4 linked regions of the Homo sapiens genome follow. The protein of the gene in region 1 interacts with the protein of each later gene in a biochemical or structural test. Each region holds a gene or a part of one and is shown in the gene's direction. Other genes may lie near its edges. The genes, in order: MUL1, UBE2V2, UBXN7 and UBE2R2.

What was found.
Region 2: the proteins of MUL1 (region 1) and UBE2V2 form a complex in vitro, tested with the Homo sapiens proteins (one study listed by BioGRID).
Region 3: of the proteins of MUL1 (region 1) and UBXN7, one has a biochemical effect on the other in vitro, tested with the Homo sapiens proteins (one study listed by BioGRID).
Region 4: the proteins of MUL1 (region 1) and UBE2R2 form a complex in vitro, tested with the Homo sapiens proteins (one study listed by BioGRID).

The regions. Positions count from the first base shown.
Region 1 is NC_000001.11:20,498,948-20,505,151, reverse strand, and holds the end of MUL1 (mitochondrial ubiquitin ligase activator of NFKB 1), read left to right. Parts: intron 1-1,842; coding exon 1,843-1,930; intron 1,931-2,962; coding exon 2,963-3,083; intron 3,084-3,732; coding exon 3,733-4,462; 3' UTR 4,463-5,704; downstream 5,705-6,204. UniProt on the Homo sapiens protein: Exhibits weak E3 ubiquitin-protein ligase activity. E3 ubiquitin ligases accept ubiquitin from an E2 ubiquitin-conjugating enzyme in the form of a thioester and then directly transfer the ubiquitin to targeted substrates.
Region 2 is NC_000008.11:48,002,862-48,011,906, forward strand, and holds the start of UBE2V2 (ubiquitin-conjugating enzyme E2 variant 2), read left to right. Parts: upstream 1-5,569; 5' UTR 5,570-5,593; coding exon 5,594-5,609; intron 5,610-9,045. UniProt on the Homo sapiens protein: Has no ubiquitin ligase activity on its own. The UBE2V2/UBE2N heterodimer catalyzes the synthesis of non-canonical poly-ubiquitin chains that are linked through 'Lys-63'. This type of poly-ubiquitination does not lead to protein degradation by the proteasome.
Region 3 is NC_000003.12:196,346,522-196,352,995, reverse strand, and holds the end of UBXN7 (UBX domain-containing protein 7), read left to right. Parts: 3' UTR 1-5,334; downstream 5,335-6,474. UniProt on the Homo sapiens protein: Ubiquitin-binding adapter that links a subset of NEDD8-associated cullin ring ligases (CRLs) to the segregase VCP/p97, to regulate turnover of their ubiquitination substrates.
Region 4 is NC_000009.12:33,896,683-33,904,890, forward strand, and holds part of UBE2R2 (ubiquitin-conjugating enzyme E2 R2), read left to right. Parts: intron 1-3,491; coding exon 3,492-3,589; intron 3,590-8,208. UniProt on the Homo sapiens protein: E2 ubiquitin-conjugating enzyme that accepts ubiquitin from an E1 ubiquitin-activating protein, and catalyzes its covalent attachment to other proteins by an E3 ubiquitin-protein ligase complex.

The DNA.
Region 1 (6,204 bases):
TTTAACCCACATAAAAATCCTGTGAAATTGCATTTTCCCTGTCCTTTATGGTTTTGGAACCTGAGACTCAGATAAATGAAGTTGTCCCAAGTCACAGTGGATGCATTGGCGCTAGATTAAACTCCAGATCTTTCTGATCATATTCTCCCTCTTCCCCCTTTAAAATTCGAATTGGCCATCCTGTGGTGGATACTTTACTAGCTGTCTCACTTTGGGCAAATCACTTCACCTCTCTGAGCCTGTTTCCTTGTCTGTAATTGGTGATAATAATGTCTACCGTAAAGGGATGGTGTGGGCATTAAGTGGTTTATGCATTTAAAGTGCCTAGCATATTGCCTGGTACATAGTATATTTAAATGCTTACTTATTCATTAATTTATTAATCAAATAATGTATTAAATGCTTGCTGTGTGTCAGGCACAGTTCTCCGCACTAGGGGGATAGCAGTGAACAGGACAAACAGTGTCCAAGCCCTCCTAGAGTTTAACATTCTAGTGGAGGGAGACAGATAATGAGTAAATTGTTAGTTGTTATTGCTGTCATTTTGGTATCTTCACAGTGTAAGTGGCTAAGAAATTTTGATTGACCTTGCTCCTGTCACTTACTGTGTAGCAGTAGCTTAAACTCAGAGTGACCTTCATATACATCTTGTATCACATCACCTCTTTAGAGGTTACTGAATCTGGCATCCTTAAGAGTTGTTTTTGGGAATACCCTGAAAGCAGAGATGGTCCTTTATTCGTCCTGAATCTCTGACACCCAGCACAGTGCCTGGCACAAAGATGCTCAGGAAATGATTGTTGATTTTATTCCTTTTCTCTTATTTTTGAAACAGCAGTAACAGGATTGGTTTCCCAAGTGCAGTGGGTTGGACGCTCTGAGTTGGAAGGCAGAGGAGAACTAGGGATTGTTAGAGGAAGACAGCAGCAGAAAGAACCGTGCTCACTTAATTATGAGCATGAAAAAGGCAAAAAGTAGAACAGACTGGGTGCGGTGGCTCACACCCGTAATCCCAGCACTTTGGGAGGCCGAGGCAGGAGGATCGCTTGAGCTCAGGAGCTCAACACCAGCCTGGGCAACATTGGGAGACCCTGTCTCTGCAAAATAAAAAAATTAGACAGGTGTGGTGGTGCATGCCTATGGCCTCAGCAACTTGGGGGCCTGAGGTGGGAGGATCACTTGAGCCTGGGAGGTTGAGGCTGCAGTGAGCCATGATTGCACTACTGCACTCCAGTCTGGGTATAACAGTGAGACCCCATCTCAAAAAAAAAAAAAAATGTAGAATGGCATTTGGCACCAGTTAACAGTCTTCCTGTTGAAGCAAAGGCAACTCCCCCTGCTTTGTTTTTTTAATAACATACAATGCAGAGCATTGGTTCGTAAAGATGTGGTAATATTAATAATAACACCTACCAGTTCTCAAACCACTGCCATGTGCTAGGTGATAGGTTAGGTACTTTATACCTGAACCCTTTGGATCATAGCTCTGTGTTGTCAGGAAGAGATTGAATGATGTTCAGTCTGTGGTATGTAAATTGACTAGTACCTTTTATATTTTCACTAAAAAGTCTTAACATGAAAAGGAGTATAGGTTTTGGTTAACTGGAACAAGAATGTATGTGGCACCCCCATTCTGCAGTGATGGAAGAGGCAGAGGCATGGCTCCATTCCTGTTGATGTACACAGCTTTGAAATCTGATTCTCAGTAGTCACCTTCCTGTCCAATTTCCATATTCTCTTGACACGAAAAAAATAGAATCTTTTTCTTTTTTTTGCCTGTAAGTTTGATTGAGCATGTCAGTGTTCAATGGCCAATTAATTTAATTTTTTTTTTTTATTTAGGGAGCTAAAAAAGTTCATTTGGGTGAAGATTTAAAGAGTATTCTTTCAGAAGCTCCAGGAAAATGCGTGCCTTATGCTGTTATAGAAGGTATGTTTGCTTATTGGTCAATGGAAAACAACGTCTTTTTCCCAAAAGATTGATAAAGATCATCTTGGCTAATATGAAGAGCCTTTTGTGGTGTTGGGTCCATGGTCCAGAACATACTTTGGGGTCAGAAAGACATGGGTTATTGCTTTGTGATCGCTAAGATTACCAAACCTCCCTGAACCACTGTTGCCTGATCTCGAAAATAATACTTACCTTTATGGGGTTGTTATAAGACAAATTATGTGATCCATGCAAAGTGCTTAGGAGAGTGCTTCTAAAATGTGACTTATGGTGATCAGAATGTCATTGTTTTGATGAATTAGCAAAAGTCAACTGAAAACACTTAATTTTTAACATTTTTTAAATTAAAAAAAAAATTTTTTTTTGAGGCCAGGTGTGGTAGCTCATGCCTGTAATCCCAGCACTTTGGGAGGCTGAGATGGGCTGATCACTTGAGCTCAGGAGTTTGAGACCAGCCTGGTCGACATGATGAAACCCCGTCTCTACTAAAAATACAAAAATTAGCTGGATGTGGTGGCACATACCCGTAATCCCAGCTACTCGGGGGGCTGAGGCAGGAGAATTGCTTGAACCCGGGAGGCGGAGGTTGCAGTGAGCCAAGATTGCACCACTGTACTCCAGCCTGGGTAACAGAGTGAGACTCCGTCTCAAATAGAGTCTTGGCTCTGTCACCCAGGTAGCTGTAGTATGGTGGTGTGATCATAGCTCACTGCAGCCTCAAACTCCTGAGCTCAAGTGATTCTCCTGCCTCAGCCTCCCAAGTATCTGGGACTACAGGCACATGCCACCACACCCTGCTAACTTTTTAATTTTTTGTAAAGATGGAATCTCACTGTGTTAACCAGGCTGGTCTCAAACTCGTGGCCCCAAGTGATCCTTCTGACTTGGCTTCCCAAAGTGTTGGGATTATAGGTGTGACCTACTGTGCCAGACCAGAAAACACATTTTAAATTATCTGAAAGGAGAGGGCAGAAAACTTCTTCAGAAATAATAGAATTTGTGTCCACTTAGGAGCTGTGCGGTCTGTTAAAGAAACGCTTAACAGCCAGTTTGTGGAAAACTGCAAGGGGGTAATTCAGCGGCTGACACTTCAGGAGCACAAGATGGTGTGGAATCGAACCACCCACCTTTGGTATGTATCACTTCTCCACTGGCCAAAACCCTTGCAGTTGGTCTATTCAAATGCTGGGGTCCTGGGTGCTGTTGCCGTGACTTCAGCTTCTCCTGAGACAGGTTGAAGCCCAGTCTCTTAATGCAGGTCATATTCTTGTGTGTAGCCTGTGGGCCTCCTATGTCGGAATCACCGAGGCATCTTGTTGAAATGCAGATTTCTGAGCTCCCTTCAGTCCCTGAAGTGGATAAGTCAGTCCCTGGTGACTTATCCAACCAGAATTTCCAGGATCAGGGACCTGGAATCTGTTGTTAGGCACACTGAAGTTTGAGAACCACTGAATCAGTGATTTCAGTATTTCCTAAAATGCTTTTGTGCCATCATATGAAATATCAGTTTTCCAACTGGTCCTAGTGAGTTTTGTTTTAGATGTTTGTTTTACAGTGGAAAGGGAAATGATAGTCTGTGGCGGTTATTTGTTGCCCACTGATATCGCCCCAGGACCTACAAATGGAGCCTCCTTGTTAGGAGGCAACTGGAGATAGTGATCTTACTGTCTTCTTCCAGTTACTTCAGACCATATGCTGTCCTCCACATTTAGTTGATCTCCAGTTCTGCCTGGGTGTTTGCTGTTTGCTACCCTGTATCTTTAGTTCTCTTATTCTTCTAGGAATGATTGCTCAAAGATCATTCATCAGAGGACCAACACAGTGCCCTTTGACCTGGTGCCCCACGAGGATGGCGTGGATGTGGCTGTGCGAGTGCTGAAGCCCCTGGACTCAGTGGATCTGGGTCTAGAGACTGTGTATGAGAAGTTCCACCCCTCGATTCAGTCCTTCACCGATGTCATCGGCCACTACATCAGCGGTGAGCGGCCCAAAGGCATCCAAGAGACCGAGGAGATGCTGAAGGTGGGGGCCACCCTCACAGGGGTTGGCGAACTGGTCCTGGACAACAACTCTGTCCGCCTGCAGCCGCCCAAACAAGGCATGCAGTACTATCTAAGCAGCCAGGACTTCGACAGCCTGCTGCAGAGGCAGGAGTCGAGCGTCAGGCTCTGGAAGGTGCTGGCGCTGGTTTTTGGCTTTGCCACATGTGCCACCCTCTTCTTCATTCTCCGGAAGCAGTATCTGCAGCGGCAGGAGCGCCTGCGCCTCAAGCAGATGCAGGAGGAGTTCCAGGAGCATGAGGCCCAGCTGCTGAGCCGAGCCAAGCCTGAGGACAGGGAGAGTCTGAAGAGCGCCTGTGTAGTGTGTCTGAGCAGCTTCAAGTCCTGCGTCTTTCTGGAGTGTGGGCACGTTTGTTCCTGCACCGAGTGCTACCGCGCCTTGCCAGAGCCCAAGAAGTGCCCTATCTGCAGACAGGCGATCACCCGGGTGATACCCCTGTACAACAGCTAATAGTTTGGAAGCCGCACAGCTTGACCTGGAAGCACCCCTGCCCCCTTTTCAGGGATTTTTATCTCGAGGCCTTTGGAGGAGCAGTGGTGGGGGTAGCTGTCACCTCCAGGTATGATTGAGGGAGGAATTGGGTAGAAACTCTCCAGACCCATGCCTCCAATGGCAGGATGCTGCCTTTCCCACCTGAGAGGGGACCCTGTCCATGTGCAGCCTCATCAGAGCCTCACCCTGGGAGGATGCCGTGGCGTCTCCTCCCAGGAGCCAGATCAGTGCGAGTGTGACTGAAAATGCCTCATCACTTAAGCACCAAAGCCAGTGATCAGCAGCTCTTCTGTTCCTGTGTCTTCTGTTTTTTTCTGGTGAATCGTTGCTTGCTGTGGACTTGGTGGAGGACTCAGAGGGGAGGAAAGGCTGGGCCCCGAGTACAACGGATGCCTTGGGTGCTGCCTCCGAAGAGACTCTGCCGCAGCTTTTCTTCTTTTTCCTCATGCCCCGGGAAACAGTCTTTCTTCAGAATTGTCAGGCTGGGCAGGTCAACTTGTGTTCCTTTCCCCTCACCTGCTTGCCTCCTTAACGCCTGCACGTGTGTGTAGAGGACAAAAGAAAGTGAAGTCAGCACATCCGCTTCTGCCCAGATGGTCGGGGCCCCGGGCAACAGATTGAAGAGAGATCATGTGAAGGGCAGTTGGTCAGGCAGGCCTCCTGGTTTCGCCACTGGCCCTGATTTGAACTCCTGCCACTTGGGAGAGCTCGGGGTGGTCCCTGGTTTTCCCTCCTGGAGAATGAGGCGCAGAGGCCTCGCCTCCTGAAGGACGCAGTGTGGATGCCACTGGCCTAGTGTCCTGGCCTCACAGCTTCCTTGCAAGGCTGTCACAAGGAAAAGCAGCCGGCTGGCACCCTGAGCATATGCCCTCTTGGGGCTCCCTCATCCAGCCCGTCGCAGCTTTGACATCTTGGTGTACTCATGTCGCTTCTCCTTGTGTTACCCCCTCCCAGTATTACCATTTGCCCCTCACCTGCCCTTGGTGAGCCTTTTAGTGCAAGACAGATGGGGCTGTTTTCCCCCACCTCTGAGTAGTTGGAGGTCACATACACAGCTCTTTTTTTATTGCCCTTTTCTGCCTCTGAATGTTCATCTCTCGTCCTCCTTTGTGCAGGCGAGGAAGGGGTGCCCTCAGGGGCCGACACTAGTATGATGCAGTGTCCAGTGTGAACAGCAGAAATTAAACATGTTGCAACCAAGTGCTAGCCTGTTGCTTTGTTAACAGGAGTTAAATGGCTAAGCCTAAGTGTCCCCAGGATGGGATTGAATCCCTGCCACAATGGAGTGAAAGGTGGGGGAGTTTGAGGCCTCTGTGTTCTTTTCCTCGGCTATAGTGGTTTGGGGCTCCCCCAGATGGGGTGATGCAGAGGCCGGCCGGGATGCCTGCCCCCTGGGGAGGAATCTGGACAGCCCACCCGTGGGTCATATCTGGCCTTGCTGACCATCTTTGAAGTCTGTCCCGACAGCCTACAAATCAGGGCAGTGAGATTTCACCTGCTGGGAGAATGGGATGGGGATGGGGTGCTGGGGGACAGCAGAGAGGAAATGAGCATTTAGCAATACTGTGTATGAGGTACTGTGCCGTGTGCTGTTTCAAACTCATTTCAGAGTGAGTTCATCCTCACAAAACCCCTGCAGGCCGAGTCCCGGTGTCTGTGCTGTACAGGTGAGGAAGTAGGCCCAGAGGGTACATTCACTG
Region 2 (9,045 bases), on another chromosome or scaffold:
TGATTTAGCCATTCCGTAATGTATACGTATTTCAAAATATCATGTCGTTAAAAAAGAAAGAGAGAATTGGCCAGGCGCAGTGGCTGACACCTGTAATCCCAGCACTTTGGGAGGCCGAAGAAGGCGAATCATGAGGTCAAGAGATTGAGACCATCCTGGCCAACATGGTGAAACCCCGTCTCTGCTAAAAATACAAAAATTAGCTGGGCATGGTGGCGCATGCCTGTAGTCCCAGCTACTTGGGAGGCTGAGGCAGGAGAATCGCTTGAACTCGGGAGGTGGAGGTTGCAGTGAGCCAAGATTGCGCCACTGCACTACAGCCTGGGCGACAGAGCAAGACTCTGTCTCAAACAAAAAAAAAAAAAAAAAAGAGAGAATTTAGTTCTCAGATAACAGAATTGTTGATTGCTCTAGAAGCTGCTGGCAGGTCAAGTGGGATGAGCACTGGGAATTAACCATCAGATTCCATAATTGGATGGCACCGTAAACAGGGAAAACATAATGAAAGTGGAGAAGAGTAAGCTTTAGACCAAACACTTTAAGTGGTTGAACTTTGTCCTCAACAGGAGAAAGAAGCCCAGTTCCAAATTTAAATTACAGGGGAGATAGCATGAAAATGTCAAGGCAACAATGTTCCCAGGGCGCATAATGGGTTTTTCTGTGTGTGCATGTGTGTGAGTGTGCTTTGATCGCAGGTACTGAGCTTCCTGCTAGTGGGAGGGTCCATGAATGTCTTGGCTATTGAGGCCCCACAACTCTGAGGGTTAAAAAGTCAAGTGGATTAAAATGGATCTGATTTTCATGTTACAGAGAGAACATATTAGTTTTTTTGCTGTACTAACTTCTTAGTACAGACTAAAAGAGCAGATCAGTTTAATGAAAAGACAAGAAAAATAAATCAGGAAAGGATTCAGAGAAGTGGGATTTCAATTTGGCCTTAAGGGAGGACAGGATGTTGAAAGGTGGAGGAGAGATGTGGTATCTCAGGTGGAGAAACAACCAGGGCAGTGGCAATAGTGCACCTGAGAGGCGGCTTGGCTGAGTGTGGGCATCCACTGGAGAGAGATGGGAAATCATTCAGGAGGTATCAGTGGAGGCTGGGTTCTGGTAGGTTGTGAAAATCAGGCCGTGGTGTTTGGGCTTGGCATCCTTGGCCAGGGTGGTAAATGGACCATTTTCTGCTATAACTACCTATGGTAGTTACACCAACATGGGATGACAAGACTTTTTTTCTGCTGAACTTGGATATGGTCTTAGAAATGGCTCTTCAGATAATCATTACTGGCAATCAATATGAAACTTACTACCAATCTGGTGGTAGGCAAAAGGAAGCAAATGCAGGTTTTCTCAATCAGTAAGGACATAATAAATGTGGTGTTTAAGAAATATTGATATTTAGGATAGGTCAGCTAGAGGCTGTTGCTAAGTATATAATGCTGAGGTCACTAGAACTCAGCAGACAAACTTGGGGAAAGTTTAATAATTTGATGATAATATTAGAGTTTTTCTCTGCACTGGTAAGAAATTTCAGTTAGGTTATTGTGTCAGGTCCCTTTGTGAGAAAAACAGTCTCATTTTGGCTTGTCAAGTTACAGTGGCTTGAGAGTAGATAAGGATAGTATATTATGATTCTTCTTTATTTCCTCTTCTGTTTTTTTTTTTTGTTTTGTTTTTTTGTTTTTTTTTTGAGGCAGAGTCTCGCTCTTGTCATCCAGGCTGGAGTGCAGTGGTGTGATCTCAGCTCACTGCAACCTCCGCCTCTTGGGTTCAAGCAATTCTCTGCCTCAGCCTCCCAAGTAGCTGGGATTACAGGTGGCCGCCACCATACCTGGCTAATTTTTCTATTTTTAGTAGAGGGAGGGTTTCACCATTTTGGCCAGGCTGGTATTGAATTCCCGACCTTGTGATCCACCTGCCTTGGCCTCCTGAAGTGTTGGGATTACAGGCGTGAGCCACCGCACCTGGCCCCCTGCATTTTTTTTTTTAAGACAGTGTCTCATTCTGTTGCCCAGGCTGTATTACAGTGGTGCCATCATAACTCACTGAAGCCTTAACCTCCTGGCTCAAGTGATCCTCCCATCTCATCCTCCTGAGTAGTTGAGGCTACAGGCACGAACCAGAATGCCAGCTTTTTTTTTTTTCTCTTAACTACTTTTTCTCCTTTTTTTTTTTTTTTAATTTAAATTCTGGGGAACAGGGGCAGAACATGCAGGTTTGTTACAGAGGTATACACGTGCCATGGTGGTTTGCTACACCCATCAACCTGTCATCTACATTACGTATTTCTCCTAATGCTATCCCTCCCCTAGCCCCCAACCCCTGACAGGCCCCAGTGTGTGATGTTCCCCTCCCTGTGTCCATGTGTTCTCACTGTTCAACTCCCACTTATAAGTGAGAACATGAGGTGTTTGGTTTTCTGTTCTTGTGATAGTTTGCTGAGAATGACGGTTTCCAGCATCATCCATGTTCCTGCAAAGGACATGAACTCATCCTAATTTATGGCTGCATAGTATTCCATGGTGTATATTTGCCACATTTTCTTTATGCAGTCTATCACTGATGGCCATTTGGGTTGGTTCCAAGTCTTTGCTATTGTGAACAGTGCCACAATAAATATACATGTGCATGTGTCTTTATAGTAGAATGATTTATAATGCTTTGGGTATATACCCAGTAATGGGATTGCTGGGTCAAATGGTATTTCTAGTTCTAGATCCTTGAGGAATCGCCACACTGTCTTCCACAATGGTTGAACTAATTTATACTCCCACCAACAGTGTAAAAGCATTCCTATTTCTCCACATCCTCTCCAGCATCTGTTGTTTCCTGACTTTTTAATGATCACCATTCTACCTGGTGTGAGATGGTAGCTCATTGTGGTTTTGATTTGCATTTCCCTAATGACCAGTGATGATGAGCTTTTTTTCATGTTTGTTGGCTGCATAAATGTCTTCATTTGAGAAGTGTCTGTTCATATCCTTTGCCCACTTTTTGATGGACTTATTTTTTTCTTGTAAATCTGTTTAAGTTCTTTGTAGATTCTATATATTGGCCCTTTGTCAGATGGATAGATTGCAAAAATTTTCTCCCATTCTATAGGTTGCCTGTTCACTCTCATGGTAGTTTCTTTTGCTGTGCAGAAGCTCTTTAGTTTAATCAGATTCCATTTGTCAATTTTGGCTTTTGTTGCCATTGCTTTTGGTGTTTTAGTCATGAAGTCTTTGCCCATGCCTACATCCTGAATGGTATTGCCTAGGTTTTCTTCTAGGGTTTTTATGGTTTTAGGTCTTACGTTTAAGTCTTTAATCCATCTTGAGTTAATTTTTGTATAAGGTGTAAGGAAGGGATCCAGTTCCAGCTTTCTGCATATGGCTACCCAGTTTTCCCAACACCATTTATTAAATAAGGAATCCTTTCCCCATTGCTTGTTTTTGTCAGGTTTGTCAAAGATCAGATGGTTGTAGATATGTGGAGTTATTTCTGAGGCCTCTGTTCTGTTCCATTGATCTATATATCTGTTTTGGTACCAGTACTAGGCAATTTTTTTTACTGTAGCCTCGCAGTATAGTTTGAAGTCAGGTAGGTAGTGTGATGCCTCCAGCTTTGTTCCTTTTGCTTACGATTGCCTTGGCTACGTGGGCTCAATACCCCTGATGAACATTGATGCGAAAATACTCAATAAAATACTGGCAAACCGAATCCAGCAGCACATCAAAAAAGCTTATCCACCAAGATCAAGTCGGCTTCATCCCTGGGATGCAAGGCTGCTTCAACATATGCAAATCAATAAATGTAATCCATCACATAAACAGAACCAATGACAAAAACCACATGATTATCTCAATAGATGCAGAAAAGGCTTCGACAAAATTCAACAGCCCTTCATGCTAAAAACTCTCAATAAACTAGGCATTGATGGAATGTATCTCAAAATAATAAGAGCTATTTACGACAAACCCACAGCCAATATCATACTGAATGGGCGAAAACTGGAATGAAGGATTCTTTTTATTTTTTATTTTTTTTTATTTTGAGATGGAGTCTCGCTCTGTCCCCTAGGCTGGGGTGGAGTGCAGTGTCGCCATCTCGGTTCACTGCAAGCTCCAACTCCCGGGTTCACGCCATTCTCCTGCCTCAGCCTCCCGAGTAGCTGGGACTACAGGGGCCTGCCACCATGCCTGGCTAATTTTTTGTATTTTTTTTTTTTTAGTAGAGACAGGGTTTCACTGTGTTAGCCAAGATGGTCTTGATCTTCTGACCTCGTGATCCGCCCGCCTCCGCCTCCCAAAGTGCTGGGATCCATGCCCGGCCAAAAGCATTCCCTTTGAAAGCCGGCACAAGACAAAGATGCCCTCTCTCACCACTCCTATTCAACATAGTATTGGAAGTTCTGGCCAGGGCAATCAGGCAAGAGAAAGAAATAAAGGGTATTCAATTAGGAAAAGAGGAAGTCAAATTGTCTCTGTTTGCAGATGACATGATTGTATATTTAGAAAACCCCATAGTCTCAGCCCCAAATCTTCTTAAGCTGACAAGCAACTTCAGCAAAGTCTCAGGATACAAAATCAATGTGCAAAAATCACAAGCATTCCTATACACTAATAACAGACAAACAGAGAGCCAAATCATGAGTGAACTCCCATTCACAATTGCTACAAAGAGAATAAAAATACCTAGGAATACAACCTACAAGGGATGTGAAAAATCTTTTTTTTTTTTTTTTTTCAGTTTTATGTAGAGACTAGGTATCACTATGTTGTCCAAGCTGGTCTCAAAGTCTTGGGTTCAAGCCATCCTCCTGCCTCAGCCTCCCAAAGTGTTAGGATTACAGAAGTGAGCTTCGGCGCCCAGCCTGTATTACTTTCCTTTTTCTTTCTTTCTTTTTTTTTTTTGAAATGGAGTCTCCCTCTGTTGCCCAGGCTGGAGTGCAGCGATTTCTGCTCACTGCAGCCTCACCTCTTGGGCTCACGTGACCCTCCCACCTCAGCATCCCTAGCTGTTCAAATTTATTGTCCAACTCTTTTGAATCGTTTATCAACGCAAATCTGTCAATGCCCACTTATTTTTATTTATTTTTTTGAGGCGGAGTCTCGCTCTGTTGTCCAGGCTGGAGTGCAGTGGCGCAATCGCGGCTCATTGCCCCTCCGCCTCCCCGGTTCAAACGATTCTCGTGCCTCAGCCTCCCAAATAGCTGGGATTACAGGCGCGCGCCACCACGTCCGGCTAATTTTTGTATTTTTAGTAGAGACGGGGTTTCGCCATGTTGGCCAGGCTGGTTTCGAACTCCTGACCTCGGGTGATCCGATCGCCTCGGCCTCCCAAAGTGCTGGGATTACAGACGTGAGCCACCGCGCCCGGCCCTCATGAACTTATTCTTTAGCGTTTCATTTTGAGAGCGGGATTCACAAGGGAATTGCGGAAACAGCAGCGAGGCCCCGCGACCCCTCGGCCCACGTGCGCGCTGTCCCTCGGGTCGCCCCGCGCCCGCCGGGGGCGGAGTCCGCTGTGACGCGTGCAGGGCGGCGCGCTCCCGGAAGTGACGCGCGACGGTTCGTGCGTGCGTGCGGGCGGCTGCGTCGGGCTGCAGGAGAAGATGGCGGTCTCCACAGGTCGGTTCCCGGGCCGGGCTGCGTGATTTTCCGCTCCGACCCGGCTCTGCCCCTCCGTCTGCTGCTGGCGCCCGAGCGCTGACCGTGCGGGAGAAGCCCGAGTGCGCTGTCTCGAATGCCGCGCTCTCCGCAGAGCGTAGCCTGGGACCGGGTGGGACCGGCGCCGAGGCCCCGGCGGCCGTCGGGTTGGCGGGTCGTGCTCGCGCGTCGGCCGCGCGCCGGCGGGCTGGGGGCGGGGTGGCTCCCGCGCGGGCGCCCCCGTAGGTTCCGGCGGGCGCGGGTCCGAGTTGTAGGCTGAAGGCTCTACGGGAGGGAGGCGAGGAGGCCCAAGGTGGGCGGGTGTCAACCTCCGGCACCGAAGATGGGTCAGGCCAACCGGCACCGAAGATGGGTCAGGCCAAGAGGTGTCCTGGATCAGAGTAGGGGTCCCATTCCTTTGGACTCTCCTTGACATGGGTTGGGGAGTAGAGGACGATTGCTCCTTAAAATAAGAGCGAGAGGATCTTTCTTACCTGACTGAATACGTGTGATCTTTTTATTATTTATGAGGAAAACTGCAGTGCAAACAAAATAAAAGACCAGAGCAAGATGAAAGCTAATTGAAGAACAAGTGGTTTCTTAGATAAGCTGTTCAACTCCTCTTTCCTACTGAATACAATGTTTGGTTTCCTGTGAGCACACAAGTATTAACGTTGAGGTTTTAGACATTAGACCATTTCAGAAATGTTAAAAACGTTAAGCTTTAGTTTACATTTAAAAATGTTAACCCGTGTGATCTGCCTTTTTCTTTTCTTTTCTTTTTTTTTTTTTTTTTGAGTCAGAGGCTCACCCTGTTGCCCAGTTGGAATGCAGTGGTGTGATCTCGGCTCACTGCAACCTCCACCTCCCAGGTTCAAGTGATTCTCCTGCCTCAGCCTCCCAAGTAGCTGGGATTACAGGCGCGTGCCACCAGGCCCGGCTAATTTTTGTATTTTTAGTAGAGACGGGGTTTTGTCATGTTGGCCAGACTGGTCTCGAACTCCTGACCTCAGGTGATCCGCCCACTTCGGCCTCCCAGAGTGCTGGAATTACAGGTGTGAGCCACCGCGCTCGGCCTGATCTGCCTTTTCCTAGTCTTCGTTGAAACAAGAGTATAGAGCAGTGTGATTTAATAGTTTATGCCATCATTGCATAATAAAATGAATTTTCAAATCTATATGTACTGAAATGGAAGGCTTTGAATATATGTTGTAATTGTTGCTTTAGAGTAATACCTCAGGATACATTCTGCATACATTTTAATTAAGTGGTGTCTTTTACATCTTTATTACATATAGGTGTCATAGGTTTTAAGATCTTTAGCAGTTCTAGTGTTGGGGTAGTATACATACTTGGGTCAGCTAGCTAGTAAGGCAAGGATTGTTTTAAAAGTGGAATTTTAGTGTTATGACTTTACTGTGCTTGCTGAAATCTAATCTGTGCTCGTTAACGGGGCCATATCTTTATAACAGTTGTGCTTAGGACCTCTTATAGATTTTTGAAAATTTAGTAATAAAATAATGCATTTTAATTTAATACTTTTCATTTTCCTTTTGTGGGTTGCATTATTAAACACAATTTTTTCATAACACTATACATGAGTGTATGTTAATATTTTGAAAAGACCAAAGGTTAGATGATATTAATGGCAAATACTTTTTGTTAATCACTTTTAGTTGTTTTGGAAGTTGAATATAAATTATAAAGATTACTGATAAATTATTAGCATATTGTACATAGGGAGTCTGTATTTTTTTTTTTTTTTTGAGATGGAGTCTCGCTGCATTGCCCAGGCTGGAGTGCAGTGGCATGATCTTGGCTCACTGCACCCTCCTCACCTCAGGTGATCCACCCGCCTCAGCCTCCCAAAGTGCTGGATTACAGGGGTGAGCCACCGTTCCCATCTACTAGTTTTTTTTTTTTTTTTTTTTGAGACGCAGTCTTGCTCTGTCACCCAGGCTGGAGTGCAGTGGCGCGATCTCGGCTCACTGCAACCTCCGCCTCCCGGGCTCAAGCGATTCTCCTGCCTCAGTCTCCTGAGTAGCTGGGACAACAGGCGCGTGCCACCATGCCCAGCTAATTTTTTGTATATTTAGTAGAGACGGGGTTTCACCATATTGGCCAGGATGGTCTTGATCTCTTGACCTCGTGATCCGGCCTCCCAAATTGCTGGGATTACAGGTGTGAGCCACTGCGCCTGGGTTTGTTTGTTTTTTTTTTTTTTTGAGACTGAGTCTCTCGCTTCTTTGCCCAGGCTGGAGTGCAAGGGCATGATCTCGGCTCACTGCAACTTCCACCTCCCTGGTTCAAGCAATTCCTCTGCCTCAGCCTCTTGAGTAGCTGGGATTACAGGTGCATGCCACCACGCCCAGCAAATTTTTTTGTATATATATATTTTTTTTGTATTTTTTTTTTTTTTTTTAGTAGGGACAGGTTTTCATCATGTTGTCCAGACTGGTCTCAAACTCCTGACCCCAGGCAATCCGCCCACCTTGGCCTCCCAAAGTGCTGGGATTACAGGTGTGAGCCACAGTGCCCAGCCTATTAATTAGTTTTAATTTTACTATTAGCTATACTTTTGTTTGCTTTTTGGTAACATGGGAAGTAAATAGTACCTGTGTATTTGTGAAAGCAGCATGATACAGCTTAAAATTTAAAATTAGATGAGCTACATCGATGTAATGCACGTGTTTGTTTGAAACGGAGTCTCGCCTTGTTGCTCAGGCTGGAGTGCAATGGTGCGATCTCGGCTGACTGCAGCCTCTTCCTCCTGGGTTTAAGCAATTCTCCTGCCTCAGCATTCTGAGTAGCTGGGTTTACAGGCATGCACCACCACGCCCAGCTAATTTATTGTATATATATTTTTTCTAGTAGAGATGGGGTTTCACCATGTTGGCCAGGCTGGTCTCAAACTGCTAACCTCAGGTAATCCATCTGCTCCGGCCTCCCAAAGTTCTGGGATTACAGGCATAAACCACTGAGCTTGGTCTAATACACGTGTTTTTTATTTAAGCCAAAGTATCTCGATAACAGTTGTTTAAGAGGCCAAAAAGAAAAACCCTGACAAATATGTTTTGATCTTTAGTTCAGTGTGCATCATATACCTTAGCCCCTTTAACCCTTCCTTCTACTGGAAGAGAATTTTGGAAGGAAAAAACTTTTAATTAGACTGAGACTTTTTGAGACGGAGTCTTGCTGTGTTGCCCAGGTTGGAATGCAGTGGCATGCGATCATGGCTCACTGCAGCCTCGACCTGCTGGGGTCAGGTGATCCTCCTACCTCAGCCTCCCGAGTAGCTGCGAACACAGGCACGCATTGCCACACCTGGCTAATTTTTAAATTATTTGTAGAGACAGGGTCTCCGTATGTTATCCAGTGTAGTCTGAACTCCTGGACTCAAGTGACCCTCCTGCCCTGG
Region 3 (6,474 bases), on another chromosome or scaffold:
ACTGGTGAAGATGTGAAAGTAAAATTGCCACGTGGCATTATTTGCCAAGAATAAATGAAAAGGGTAAAAAAACAATTTTTTCTTTTTTTAAACATTTTTCAGAAAAGATACAATTACCTTTTTTAATAGGTGAGCGCCACCACGCCCGGCTAATTTTTGCATTTTTAGTAGAGACAGGGTTTCACCATGTTGGCCAGGATGGTCTCGATCTCTTGATCTCGTGTTCCGCCCACCTCGGCCTCCTAAAGTGCTGGGATTACAGGCATGAGCCACTGCGCCCGATCTACAATTCTGTTTTCTGTGTCCCATCCATACCAGATTATTGAACCCTCTGTGTGTATGTTTTTAAATCTTGTATATAATTCTACTTCCTTGACTTACAAGTCAACAATTAGCTATTGAGTTCTTTATAGAAGTTGGAAGTATTTTGAAATCTGAGATCTAATTCCTGGCCAGGTGTGGTGGCTCATGCCTGTAATCCCAATATTTTGGGAGGCCGAGGTGGGTGGATCACCTGAGGTTGGGAGTTCGAGATCAGCCTGGCCAACATGGTGAAACCCCATCTCTACTGAAAAATACAAAAATTAGCCAGGCATGGTGGCTGTCTGTAATCCCAGCTAATGGGGAGGCTGAGGCACAAGAATCTCTTGAACCTGGGAGGCGGAGGTTGCAGTGAGCCGAGATCACACCACTGCACTCCATCCTGGGCAATGGAGCGAGACTCTGTCTCAAAAAATAATAAATAAGATATGATTCCTGCCTGTTTTATCCAGTTAGAGAGACACACTACACATGAAATAATTGGAGAGCATGTAAATGTTTACCTATTAGTTCAAACTTAGAAAAAGGGAAGAATATGTTTTAGTTAGCAAAGTCTTAAACAAGACTGAAGTGGCAAGCACTGTAGCTCACGTTTTCTTTTGACTCACCTTTTTCTTTAGCTCCACCTTTTGTAACTTCTAGATTTGGGGCATGAAGTTCTGCCACTAAGGCATAACCAGTACCCAAGTAGGAAAGGATTATTGATCCCTGGAGTAAAGATTCCTAGCTTGCGGGGATCTCACTATTGATCCCCCGGAGTAAAGATTCCTAGCTCGCAGGAATCTTACTTGCACACTTAGGGAAAATACCAGAGGGAGCCACTAGCAACCGAAAAATGAAGGAAAGATTTAATTTCTCTACCCAGGTACAAATCCAATGCATAGTATAGTATATGTTATATGCAGAAAGGGCACTGGAGGTGTGAGAGCCCTTTGGGTAACAGCTCTGCTAGTTGTTACCTTCACACTTCTCTTTCTTCTTAATCTCTGGTTTCTCGTCTGAAAAATGAGATAATTGGACTAGATTAATAGTTCTCAGCCTTTTCTAGAACAACAAATTAGATTATCTCTGAAGTCCTTTTCCAAAATTTCATGCTTCCAGTCTCTCCCCGTGATTGCGTATTATCCCTAGGCTAATTAAAAGTGTGCTGGTTAATCAGTTTCTTTACTTTTTTTTTCTCTCTTTTTTTTATTCTGTGTTCAGGTATCATTTGACCAACAACTTGCTCTTAATCTTACTGCGATGACTGAAATCTCCAAAGAGGAGAGTATAGTAGTTATAGGTCTAGTAATAATAATCTTGTAAACAATTCATTATTTTTTAAAACTTAATGCTGTGTGCCTAATCAGTGTTGAGTATGACTAAAATGTAAATGAGAACCAAATATGACACTAACGCTGGCACTAAATTTTATTTTTACTTGTGTACTTAAAGTACTTTACTGGCCTGTTGGGAAATTGATTTGTATAAGATTCACACCTGGTTTTGGCAGAAACAGCTTTTTAAAGATACAATTAGGCTGACTTAAAAATGTTTTTTATTCCACAGAATGTATCTTTATTATGTCATTCTTACCGTCTCTCTGCCTTTTTTGACCATCATGTAACTACGCAGTAGTAAATCATGGGGTGCAGGCTGATGAATTAGTAGTCTTTGTAAAACTAAAATGTAATGAGCATAGGAAGAGACAGCTCTTCTGGTGAACATGGCAGTTTTCCGGTAATACCAGCCTTGATGAATAGGCTAAAGACAGCTGTGTACTATGGACATTCAACTTCACTGGATTGCCTGGCTTAGCTTTTCAGTTATTGTCTTGCCGTGAAACATGGTGTTGCACTGTACACATTTTAGAATAGTGGCAAGAATGTTCTTTAGAACTGCAGATAACCCAACAGAGAATACCATACCAATATATCGGTTTCTCCTGTTACATAGAGATTTGGTATTTCAGTGATGGTTATGGTTTTTGACTCACCTGTGTGTCAGTCCTGCTAGAGAGACAGTATAGAATCAAGAATTTCTTGATGTCTTTTTAAAAATAGAGATTATAATGGCCTTGCTAGTTGTCCTGTGAAGTGACAGACCCTTAATTAGAAATCTTTTAATCCTGCTTTCCATTTTACTTCTCCACCATTTATTTTTAACATTCATTCTCTGAAAATAGTTATGATTTTTAGTGTAATTGGCTATGTTTAAGAAATTCCATTTCAAAGTCTTAATATGTAACAATCTTCATTTTTTATAAAATTGAAGGACATTTTTGAGGCAAACTTACTTTTATAGCTCATTTTCTCCCTAGTTAAGGAGAATTCTCTGGTTTCATATAGAGAATGGCTAGCTCTGTGATACCCCACCCTCTTTGTGGCCTACCAGTTGCTGTTGTGTTGCTTAAAATTGCAGATATTCTCATAAACATGATGATTTTTGGCACAGGCCTTTCTTTGCTATTGATTTCAAAATAAAGTTGGGCAATCCAATTTGAACTACTTTAATAAACATAATTTAGCATTCCTGTAATGAGAAAGTATTTTCAAAAGATAACCAGATTTATTTCTAGGATTAGAGATGGCAAATACCAATGATAGTATTTTTCCCAAGAGCAATCACAGATTAATCTATAAATATGAGAAGTCGCATTATTGTACTTAATTCTTTGGCAACAAACAGCAAGTTTTTATTGTTTAATTGTATTTCCTCTCTAGAGATCACAATACTCTGGGTATTTTATATCCCTTCTAAAGGTCATTTGGGTTTTCAAATGGGAAGAATAGTCAAGCTAAGCTGGACTAAACCTAAGTAATATTTTTTCTCATCAAAAGAAGTTATTAATCTAACTGGGTTAGCATGAGTCATTCATTTTTTAGACATGATAAATGGGAAACATATCAAATCATTAGATAAATTCTGACCTGGAATTGAATTCCCCCTTTCTTAAAATCTTTTTAATTTGCTTTTTTCATAGACTCAGTATGGAACTCTTAACTGATAAGGGAGAGATTCTTGATCTGGAACCGTTCCCTGCCATTCTCCTTTTTTCTCTCTATCTAGGTAGCTGGTTCCATAGTGCCCGTCACGAGGGTCCATTTCAGTTTGATGACATTAGACTGCTTACACTCAGCTGGATGCCTTGCTGTTTGCAGCAACATGATTTTACAGTATGCTTTTCTCAAAGCTTTGCATTCTTAATGGAGATATCAAATGGTGTAATTCCAAATATAAATATGTTTATGACACTAATCATATGCTTTTAACAATAACTTTTTGATAACTTATTGCCCTGTAAGTTAAACCTTACACGGAGTGACTGTTGCCATCAGAAAATCCCCTTTCACCTGCTAGAGAGAGTGAAAGTAGTGCGTGGCCTCCACTTTTCAGTTAACGAGTAGCAAGCTTCTAGTAGGGGCTGCTTATCTGACCCATGTGGGGTCTTGGGCCTTGTTACTTTCCTGGGTTCGTCCCTTCAGCTGGAAAGGCTGTTGAAAACACTTGCCAGGAAACAGTAAAGCTGTGAGAGAATCTTCTAGTCTTAGATATAGAGAAATGAGTACCAGTTGATGCTAACACGATACTTAGACTTTGAGGGGCTTCCATCCAAGCTTTGGCATGAATCTGTTAGACACGGTTTTCTTCACTCCTCTGATAATCTTTTTTTCCAGAATGGTTTTTTGTTGTTGTTGTTGTTAACAAATTCTAAACATCCAGTGTTACTTTTTGTTTTGTTTGTTTTGTTTTGTTTTGTTTTGTTTTGTTTGCCCTTCAGGAAAGTCCTTTTTCGAGTAGGTATTGATTGTTCCCTGGAAACTCTCAGCAGTGTCTGTGCAGGCTCTGTGCATGCTTTGTATGAGTTCGGCTTGAACAATGCATTTGAAGTCACCTGGGATGTCCAGTTCTGGCATGTCTTCATTGATTGTGTTTTTAAACATGTTTCATGTTTCATGTCATTTTCCAAACCTCACTTTACATCTTACTCAGAGAAGTTAATCAAGGAATGAAATTTCTAGGGGGATAGGGATGATGAGGGTGGGTTGGGGGCTTGAGTGAAGTCAACTTGGGGTATTTGCTTTAAAGTGTTTTCTAAAGCAGTTCCTAACAGTATTTAGAGATTCCCTGGGATGTTTGTGGCTCAACTTATTCTGGACAAAGTGTGTGTGGGGGTGGTCTTACTGAGATTTGCATTCTTAATGCAGGACAGGCTCTAAATTTCATCTGTACTCTAAATTTGTGATTGAATCCAAGAAGATAACAGAGACAGTGCTCCTGTTGTAATGTTTCTGGCAAGTGCTCCCTAAAATGCACATCGAATTCTGTTTTCTGGGCCTTTTCTCCAATGGTGCTAGGAGATACCGTTGATTTCTGCAGCTCTTCTCAGTGGTGGGAAGAAGTCTTTGGGATTGTTGAGCAAGGGGCAGCTGGACCATCCACTAAATTTTTTTGTTCAAGACACATTAGAGACCCTCCTGTATATCTAGTAAGTCATAATAAAGGTGCTTGGGAAAGCCTTAAATTTGAAGACACATGGAGGCGGTAGAAAATTAAACTTGTAAGAGGAGAAAAACATGCCATTAGGTAACGCAGAGTTGTAACTACTGGCTAAGACTCAATGGAACTTCCACTTGCTCTAAAACCAGGGAAATCTTAGATAACTGGGTGTGATCTACCTATAGATCTACCTAGTCTATAGGTAATAATTTCCAGAAGGAGGATCTTGCTGTCAGTTGGGGATCCTCTGGTTTGGTCTGTACCAAATTGTGAATACTCTTGCTGTGTTGTACCCAGTTGCTTTATATTAATACTGCAACTTGAAACGGGGAGGGTGGGGGGACAATGGGGTGGGGGAGGGAAGGGAGTGGGACGATAAGTCTTTTGAAGACATCAGCTCACTGTGCTGAGAGAGGGACCAAACTCAAGGAAACCTCTGATCTATACATTCAACTGCTGCATTTTTTTATAAATACATGTAAATGTCCTGTTGTAATATTTGATCTTGGAAATAAAAACAAAAACTTTTCAGTATTAGTTTTTTTTGTGTTGTTGTTTTTACAAGATAAGACTCTGGATATTACTTTCAGTAATACAATTGAGATTCCAAAAGCTTGCCCCCTCACGTTCTCATTTAGGTCAGTTACTATTGATTGACAAAGGTTACTTTGTAGTCCCGTTGTTATGTGTAACGTTTGCTAGCCTTTTTTCTGCTCTTTGTGGTATGTCAAACATTCATGGTAAACACTCTGTAAATATTAGTCCAGTTGTTACAGAAACATTGGGTAAGCTAGGCTTGTTAGGTAAGTATGATTCTGTGTTTGACATACTTGGGCGAATATTCAGTGTCTGTTCTTTCAGACCAGCAGTAATTACTAATGGTTAATTAAGGACTTAGCTTAATTGAAGGAAAGATAATTACTAAATTAATGGGCAAAAAGGAGATACGATTATATGGTATGACAGAAATTGTTATTGCTGCTGGATGCAGTGGCTCATGCATGTAATCCCAGCCCTTTGGGAGGCTGAGATGGGCGGATCACCTGAGGTCAGGAGTTCGAGACCAGCCTGGCCAACATGGTGAAACCCCGTCTCTACTAAAAATACAAACATTAGCTGGGTGTGGTGGCGGCCGCCTGTAATCCCAGCTACTTGGGAGGCTGAGACAGGAGAATCGCTTGAACCCAGGAGGCAGAGGTTGCAGTGAGCCGAGATCGTGCCACTGCACTGCAGCCTGGGCGACAAGAGTGAAACTCTGTCTCAAAAAAAAAAAAAAGAAAAAAGCCGGGCGTGGTGGCAGTGCCTATAATCCCATCTACTCGGGAGGCTGAGGCAGGAGACTTGCTTGAACCTGGGAAGTGGAGGGTGCAGTGAGCCGAGATAGCATCCAGCCTGGGTGACAGAGTGACTCCATCTCAAAAAAAAAAAAAAAAAAAAAAAAAAAGGGACTGCTGCTTAGCTCACAGTTCTACAGTGATGGGTTTGTGCCCCCCCTTTTCTTGTGGAACCATTTCTCATCCCCATGCTCCAGCCTCATGTGCCAAATAATAGGGATGTATGTGATGGGGAGCAAAACAGATACAGCCTCTGCCCTCAAGGAACTTACTTTCTAGTTGGAAACAGACGATAAACATACATGGAAAAACAGATCTGATTCTAATAGAATGAAAAAAA
Region 4 (8,208 bases), on another chromosome or scaffold:
GGTGATCTGCCCGCCTTGGCCTTCCAAAGTCCTGGGGTTACAGGCGTGAGCCACCGTGCCTAGCAACTGAGGGTTTTTAATAAATGCCCTTTATCATGTTAAGATAATTCCCATCTATTCATAGCTTTCTGATTGTTTTTATCATGAAAGAGTGTTAGATTTTGTCAAATCCATTGTCTGTGTCAATTTGGATGCCTATTTTCTAATATGTCATTTTGAAATGCAAATCTGTTGAGTTCATTCCACTACTAAGAAGGTTGTGTTTTTTGTGTTTTTTTTTTGTTGTTTGTTTTTTTAATATATATTACGCTCTGAACCAAGTAGCATACTTCTGTGGCCTAATTTTTTTTTTTTTTTTTTTTTTTTTTTTTTGAGACGGAGTCTCGCTCTGTTGCCCAGGCTGGAGTGCAGTGGCGCGATCTCAGCTCACTGCAAGCTCCGCCTCCTGGGTTCACGCCATTCTCTTGCCTCAGCCTCCTGAGTAGCTGGGACTACAGGCGTCTGCCACCACGCCCGGCTAATTTTTTGTATTTTTAGTAGAGACGGGGTTTCACCATGTTAGCCAGGATGGTCTCAATCTCCTGACCTCGTGATCCGCTGGCCTCGGCCTCCCAAAGTGCTGGGATTCAGAAAAACTCTTTTTTTTTTTTGGAGACAAGAGTTTCGCTTTTGTTGCCCAGGCTGGAGTACAATGGTGTGATCTCGGCTCACCGCAACCTCCGCCTCCCGGGTTCAAGTGATTCTCCTGTCTCAGCCTCCCGAGTAGCTGGGATTACAGGTGCGTGCCACCACGCCCGGCTAATTTTTGTATTTTTAGTAGAGATGGGGTTTCATCATATTGGTCAGGCTGGTCTCGAACTCCTGACCTCAAGTGATCTGCCTGCCTCGGCCTCCCAAAGTGCTGGGATTACAGGCGTGAGCCACTGCACCTGGCCAGAAAAACTCATTTCTACATTTCCCATAGGTTGTTTAAATTGTTATTATTAAAGGAAAGCTCATCTCAAAGCTTCCTCAACAACAAAGCCTTTTATCTTCCACCCCACCTCCCACGCATTCACTGCCCAAATATACCAAGTTTCTCTTTTCTTTTTTCTTTTTTTTTTTTTTTTTGAGATGGAGTTTTGGTCTTGTTGCCCAAGCTGGAGTGCAATGGCACAATCTCGGTTCACCACAACCTCCACCTCCCAGGTTCAAGTGATTCTCCTGCCTCAGCCTCTCGAGTAGCTAGGATTACAGGCATGCACCACCACGCCTGGCTAATTTTGTATTTTTAGTAGAGATGGGTTTTCTCCATGTTAGTCAGGCTGGTCTCGAACTCCTGACCTCAGGTGATCTGCCCGCCTTGGCTTCCCAAAGTGCTGAGGTTACAGGCGTGAGCCACCACGCCCGGCTCTCTTCTTTTTGTTTTTTGTTTTTGTTTTGAGATGGAGTCTCGCTCTGCCGCCCAGGCTGGAGTGCAGTGGCGTGATCTCAGCTCACTGTAACCTCTGCCTCCCGGGTTCAAGGGATTCTCCTGCCTCAGCCTCCTGAGTAGCTGCGATTACAGGTGCCACCACGCCCAGTTAATTTTTGTATTTTTAGTAGAGATGGGGTTTCATCATACTGGCCAGGCTGGTCTTAAACTCTTGACCTTGTGCTCTGCCTGCCTCAGCCTCCCAAAGTGCTGGGATTACAGATGTGAGCCACCATGCCTGGCCTCTCTCTTCTTTTATCTGTAGTAACTTTTTACATGCCTTATGGTATCTAACCATAAGGCAGTGTGTTAGAATATAATATTTTGTATTAATTTTATTTTAAAAATATTTTATATTGATAATGGTTACATATATATTCATATAGTTTCTATGTGTCTAAATTTGGGTTGTATATGTAAGATTTTTGCACTTTATATAGTTATACCTCCAGTTTTTTAAAAATATAAATCTTAAGTCGTGTGTGGTAGCACACCCTAGAGTCCCAGCTATGGGACTACTGAGGTGTGAGGATCACTTGAGGCCAGGAGTTAGTGGCTGCAGTGCACCATGGTTGTCTTATGCATAATCACTGCACTACAGCCTAGGTAACATAGTGAGACTCCCATCTCTAAAGACAGAAAGAAGTTAAATAAATAAATAAATCTTACCTTCCATGTTAGGCTAAGTCCAAGAGATAAGTCACTGTATTTTACCTAACTTTATCTTTTCTATTGAATTGTGTTCTGTATTGCACATGGTGGGCAATCCATATGTGTATGAATTAACCTAAATGTACTTGTGGATTAAGTTGTGTTAAGTTTATGAAGCAAAATATAATAGCCATAGTGGGAAGTCATTCTAACCATACCTTGAGGATGTTAACATTTGCTGCGAGGCATATTTTTGGTTTATATAAGTCATGGTTATTGACATAGCATCTATCTGAGTAGATATTAAGCAAGGTTAGATATTTTTTCTTCCTTTTTATGTACTCTAGGTACACAGATATATCTGAAAACAAAGGGATATATATTTGGCTGCTTCTAAGACAATTGAGTCTTGATTTATTATGTTTGTCTTTTTTTTTTTAAGATGGAGTCTCATTGTGTTGCCCAGGCCGGAGCACTATCTTGGCTCACTGCAACCTCCGCCTCCCGGGTTCAAGCGATTCTCCTGCCTCAGCCTCCTGAGTAGCTGGGATTACAGGCGCGTGCCACCACGCCCGGCTAATTTTTGTCTTTTGTTTTTGTTTTTTTGAGACGGAGTCTCCCTCTGTTGCCCAGGATGGAGTGCATTGGCGCGATCTTGGCTCCCTGCAACCCCCACCTCCCAGGTTCAAGCGATTCTCCTGCCCCAGCCTCCTGAGTAGCTGGGATTACAGGGGAGTGCTACCACGCCCGGCTAATTTTTGTATTTTTAGTAGAGACGGGGTTTCACCATGTTGTTCAGGCTGGTCTCGAACTCCTGACCTTGTGATCTGCCCACCTTGGTCTCCCAAAGTGCTGGGATTACAGGCGTGAGCCACCGCGCCCAGCCAATTTTTGTATTTTTGGTAGAGATGGGGTTTCGCCATGCTGGTCTCAAACTCCTGACCTCAGGTGGTCCACCCGCCTTGGCCTCCCAAGTGCTAGGATTACAGGCGTGAGACACCGCGCCCAGCCCCAGTCAATTTTTTATCAGGATTGTACTATAGGAATAGTAAGTCTTCTCACTAGAAAATATACCTTGGAGATTGGTCGAAATAAATATTATATTTTAATGTTCCTAAGTAAACATAGGGATCGTTTGTTTCATCAGGATTGTTCTATAGGAATAGTAAGTCTTCTCACTAGAAAATATACCTTGGAGATTGGTCAAAATAAATACTTTTAAAATGCTTAATTATTATTTATCTTTGATGTTGAACATAAAAAGCAGAATTGTTTTCTCCTTTGATGAAGAAACAGTTTCTAGGAATAAAGGAAACTTTAGAACCGATGTCCCTTTTTGTACATCACTTTTTGAGTATTTACTGAATGTAATGTTTGTGTCTTGTAGAATGGAGATGTATGCATTTCGATTCTTCATCCGCCTGTAGATGACCCACAGAGTGGAGAACTGCCTTCTGAAAGGTGGAATCCTACTCAGAATGTGAGGTAAGGAGGAATCTGGTTTTGGAGTTATTCTTAATCTCCTTATTGTCTTTGCTCCTAGTAAAATAAAATTATGTATTGTCTTTTAACATGTAAAAAATCATCTTTCTTATATTCAGTTTCTTTGTCTTTAGCTAGAGCTTTAAGAAATATGTATGCGTCATTTTGAAGAGCTGTATTTACTAAACAATAATGTATATGATTCTCATTTCCCTATGTTCACTTAGGAATAGATTTTCAAGCCTGAATCCCTACTCTTAACTTATCCTAGTTCTACTCTGGTTCTTTATTACCACCTAACATTAGTGTCATTCATTGGTTGCAGTTAATAAACAATGTTAATTCATTATAAGTAACTGAAGTCCATACGCTTTCACATTTCCTTTGTTTTTACCTGTCGTTGTTTTGCTCCAAAATATTTCATACATATAAATATATATCTATATATGTACGTGTATACATATATGTATTTAAATTTTTTGTAGAGATGGGGTCTCACTAAGTTGCCCAGCTGGTCTCAAACTCCTGGCCTCAAGCAGTCCTCCCCACTTGGCCTCCCAAAGCGCTGGGATTATAGGCATGAGCCACTGTGCCCTGCTCATCACATTATATTTAATAGTCATGTCTTCATGGGCAACTCCTCTCTCTCTCTGTCTCTGTCTCTCTCTCTCTCTCTGTTTCTGTCTGTGTCTCTGTCTCTTGTCTTTGAGACAGTGTCTTCCCGTCACCCAGACTGGTGTGCAGCGGTGTGATCACAGGTCACTGCAGCCTCGACCTCCTGGGCTCAAGTGAGCCTTTCACCTCAGCCTCCCAAGTAGCTGTGACTATAGGTGTATGCCACCATACCTAGCTATTAAGCAACTCTTGATTATAAATTTTCTTGTTTTTGATGACAATTTTGGGGGGTACTGATCAGGTATTTTGTGCAATGTCCCCCAGTTGAGATTTTTCTTATGTGTTTTCTCATGATTAGTCTAGGGTTATAGGTTTGGGAGAGAAAGACCAGAGAAGTAATGTGCCATTTTCATTATGTCATATCTGAAGTATTTACTATCAGTGTGGCTTATCCCTGTTGATGGGATACCTTTCATCACCTGCCTGAAATAATATTTTTAGCTTTTCTCCACTGTAAAGTTGCTCTTTCCTGAACTTTTCATTCTGTACTCCTTGGAAGGAATATGCATAGCCCACAACTAAGGAGAGGGTGGCTATACCTCCTTGAAGCCAGGGTATCTATATAAATTATTTTGAATTCTTCTGCATGGATTGATCTATTCTTCCCCTTTATTTGTTTATTCAATCATTTGTTAAACATTTTTACTGATACAAAAACTAATAACTTGATTAGAATCTCCAGGTTTATCAAAAGTGAAGAATTGGAAGCTTCCTGACTTGTAATAGAAGCTCTTCAAGATGTGTCAAATGACTGTTGATTATGTTTGTTACTCATTCCTTTGGGTACCTTGTTCCATCCAATTTATTTAGAAAGAGTTGAGAAAATAGATATATTAAAGATTTCAGCATATCTTACCAATATATTTTTTAAGACAAAAAATGTTACTTTCTTTCTAAATTCAAATAAATGTGTTTTTACACCTCACCTTGACAACCATCATCCCTCTGAATGTTTTTTTCTCATATTTCTTTTTTTTTTTTTTTTTTTAAGACAGGATCTTGCTCTGTCGCCCAGGCTGGAATGAAGCGGCGCGGTCACGGCTCAGCACAGCCTCAACCTCCCGGGCTTGAGCAATCCTTCCACTTTAGTCTCTTGGGTAGCTGGGACCACAGGCATGCATCACGGTGTCTGCTCAAGATTTTGTATTTTTTTTGTAGAGAGATGGGGTTTTGCTTTGTTTCCCAGGCCAGTCTCAAACTACTGGGCTCAAGCAATCCACTTGGCCTCCCAGAATGCTCAGATTATAGGTGTGCCCCAAAGCACCTGGACTAATTTTTAAGTTTTTTGTAAAGATGGGGTCTCACCATGTTGCCCAGGCTGGTCTGAAACCCATGGGCTCAAGTGATGCCCCTGCCTCAGCCTCCCAAAGTGTTGGGATTACAGGTGCTCACACTACACCCGCCTTCTGAATCTCTTATCTATACAAGAATAATACCTACCTCAGTAGGTTGTTGATAGAATTTAAGTGAATAATGCATGTAAACCTACTAGAATGGTGGATATTACCTGGCTGGCTTGGGTTGCAGCTATTATTTTCAAGGAATTTTTTGGGTCTAATGTGAAGCAGTCATTTGCTATCTATTAGAAGAGAAACACATTTCTTAGTTCCTCATATTTATTTCATTTTGCTACAGGGAGACATAATTGCTAGATGCCTGTATCGTAACCAGTTCAAGTAGTACATAATTTATCTTGGGTTCTAAATACATGAAAAGAACTAAAATAATTGTTTTGAGCTGTTTTTGAGATATTCTGTAATTGAGAATACGCTTTCTTTTTTTGAGGGGAAAAGTGTCCTACGTAGCAAATTATGTATACATGAATTATCTCGATAGACTCAATTTTAAATTAGTATTAAAAATTCTGAGTTGTAGGCCGGGCGCAGTGGCTCACGCCTGTAATCCCAGCACTTTGGGAGGCCAAGGTGGGCAGATCACCTGAGGTCGGGAGTTCAAGACTAGCCTGACCAACATGAAGAAACCCTGTCTCTACTAAAAATACAAAATTAGCTGGGCATGGTGGCACCTGCCTGTAATCCCAGCTACTCGGGAGGCTGAGGCAGGAGAATTGCTTGAACCTGGGAGGCGGAGGTTGCGGTGAGCCAGGATCGTGCCACTGCACTCCAGCCTGGGCAACAAGAGTGAAACGCTGTCTCAAAAAAAAAAAAAGTCTGAGTTTTATGTATTCTATATTACTCAAGAGTATGTTTGAGGGTGCTACGTCTTCAGAAGTAATTGTAGCACATTATTTTGACATTATAATTAGACAATGTGTATAAAAGTTTTTAAAAAATATTTTGGATGATTTGTTGAAAAAATTGCATCCAAAAAAATCCCCAGTTGTACTTTAATAATGATTCTGGTGCATGGATTTTCAGGACGAGTAATAACCCTAGATTAGAGGAAGTGGTAGCTATAATACTGGTGATTCTTGGTTTTGCTGGTTGAACGTTGAATCAAATGCTTACACCCTCTCCCTATTTGAGAAAATAAGCTTCCCCTTTCCTCAAATACAAAGCCCCAAACAAGATTTTCCTCATTGCATTTTTATGCTGCTTGGCTGGATAATGTATTGCCACCACCCATGGGAATTCAGGCTTTTTATCCTTTACTTCTCTTGCATTTACACGCAAATGATGTCATTTGCCTTATCTCAGCTTAAAGTATTATGAACATTTTTTCTTTTAAAATAGGCCTACTTCTCATGTAATCCAGTCTTTTGGAGGCAGAGGATTCCTTTTATACTTATCTGCCCATCTGAAACTGCCTTTGTTACTTTGGGTACTAGCATCATTTTGTTTCCTCACACTTGAGTCCCCAGGCCACCTGAGCCACAATTTAGGGACATTCCCCATACTCAAATCAAGATTGTTTTCCCTGCTTTTATGCTGCTTTGTTTAGAAGCTTCCCAACTACAACTAGTTATGTGGAGTTACACCTAACATCTTCACACAGCTCTACAAGGTATTTGGGTTGGAAATTGTTTACCTTCTTAGACTTTTTATCACTTAGTTCTATGTAATCATTGGGTAGTCCTTCAACATTTTGATCTTATTGGTGTTTTCGGGGGCTGTGGGATGTTTTGTACACTTTTTGGAACCTCACCTGTCTGGAATACCTGGTGGTGCTCAGAACTCTGAGCGGAAGTCAGGAAAGCACTACCTAATGAGCAGATGTGGAATACTTTCGCTTATCCCTTTTGTTTCTGTGTTCACTTGGTTGTGAGACAAGGGAGGTTTTAAAGTAGTAAACTGTTATATTTTCTAACAGGTCATTTATGGCACTGAAATATTAAGAGGGAAGATACAAGATGTAGTGGAAATGGGCAACTATTTTCCTTCTTGTACCTCTCTGCTGCTAAATTATCTAGGGCCAGCAACTGTCTAAGGGTTCTGGGCTCCATGTCCAGTTTATGGGTGGCTGTAGTAAGACAGCAGTGGAGATGGCATAGGGTTCATCTCATCCTGTTTTGGAGTCTTATCTGCTGCCTCTCACTGGCATCTGAAAGTGATTCCATATTCACGTATTTGGTTTTCTTCTCCATAACCACGTGTACTCAAGACTATTGTTCAGCACCTCAATGGACATATTTATAACATAAAGTGGCAAATGGAGCACTTTTGTAACTTGAAGAATAAGGGACTCCAGTTACCTTCAAGAGTCTAAGTCAGTCTGTATTATCAGATCTGGTGAGTAGTGAGAGTTAGCCAACCTGAAAAGGAAGAATTTTAGGGATGCAGAGAATCAGCCAACTGGTGTTCACTAAAGGCTCGGTAGCTTGCTACCTCTTGGGAAAACCAGCATACTTCTTTTGAAAGAAAACATCCACAGGCCTCCTCCTCCCAGAGGCCCAGGATTAAATTGGTGGGGCTGGAGGTGGTGGGGAGAGTTTCTTCCTGAATTGGAAAGTTTTAAGGAGTAGGCATTTGTCAGCAAGAATGGAGTTG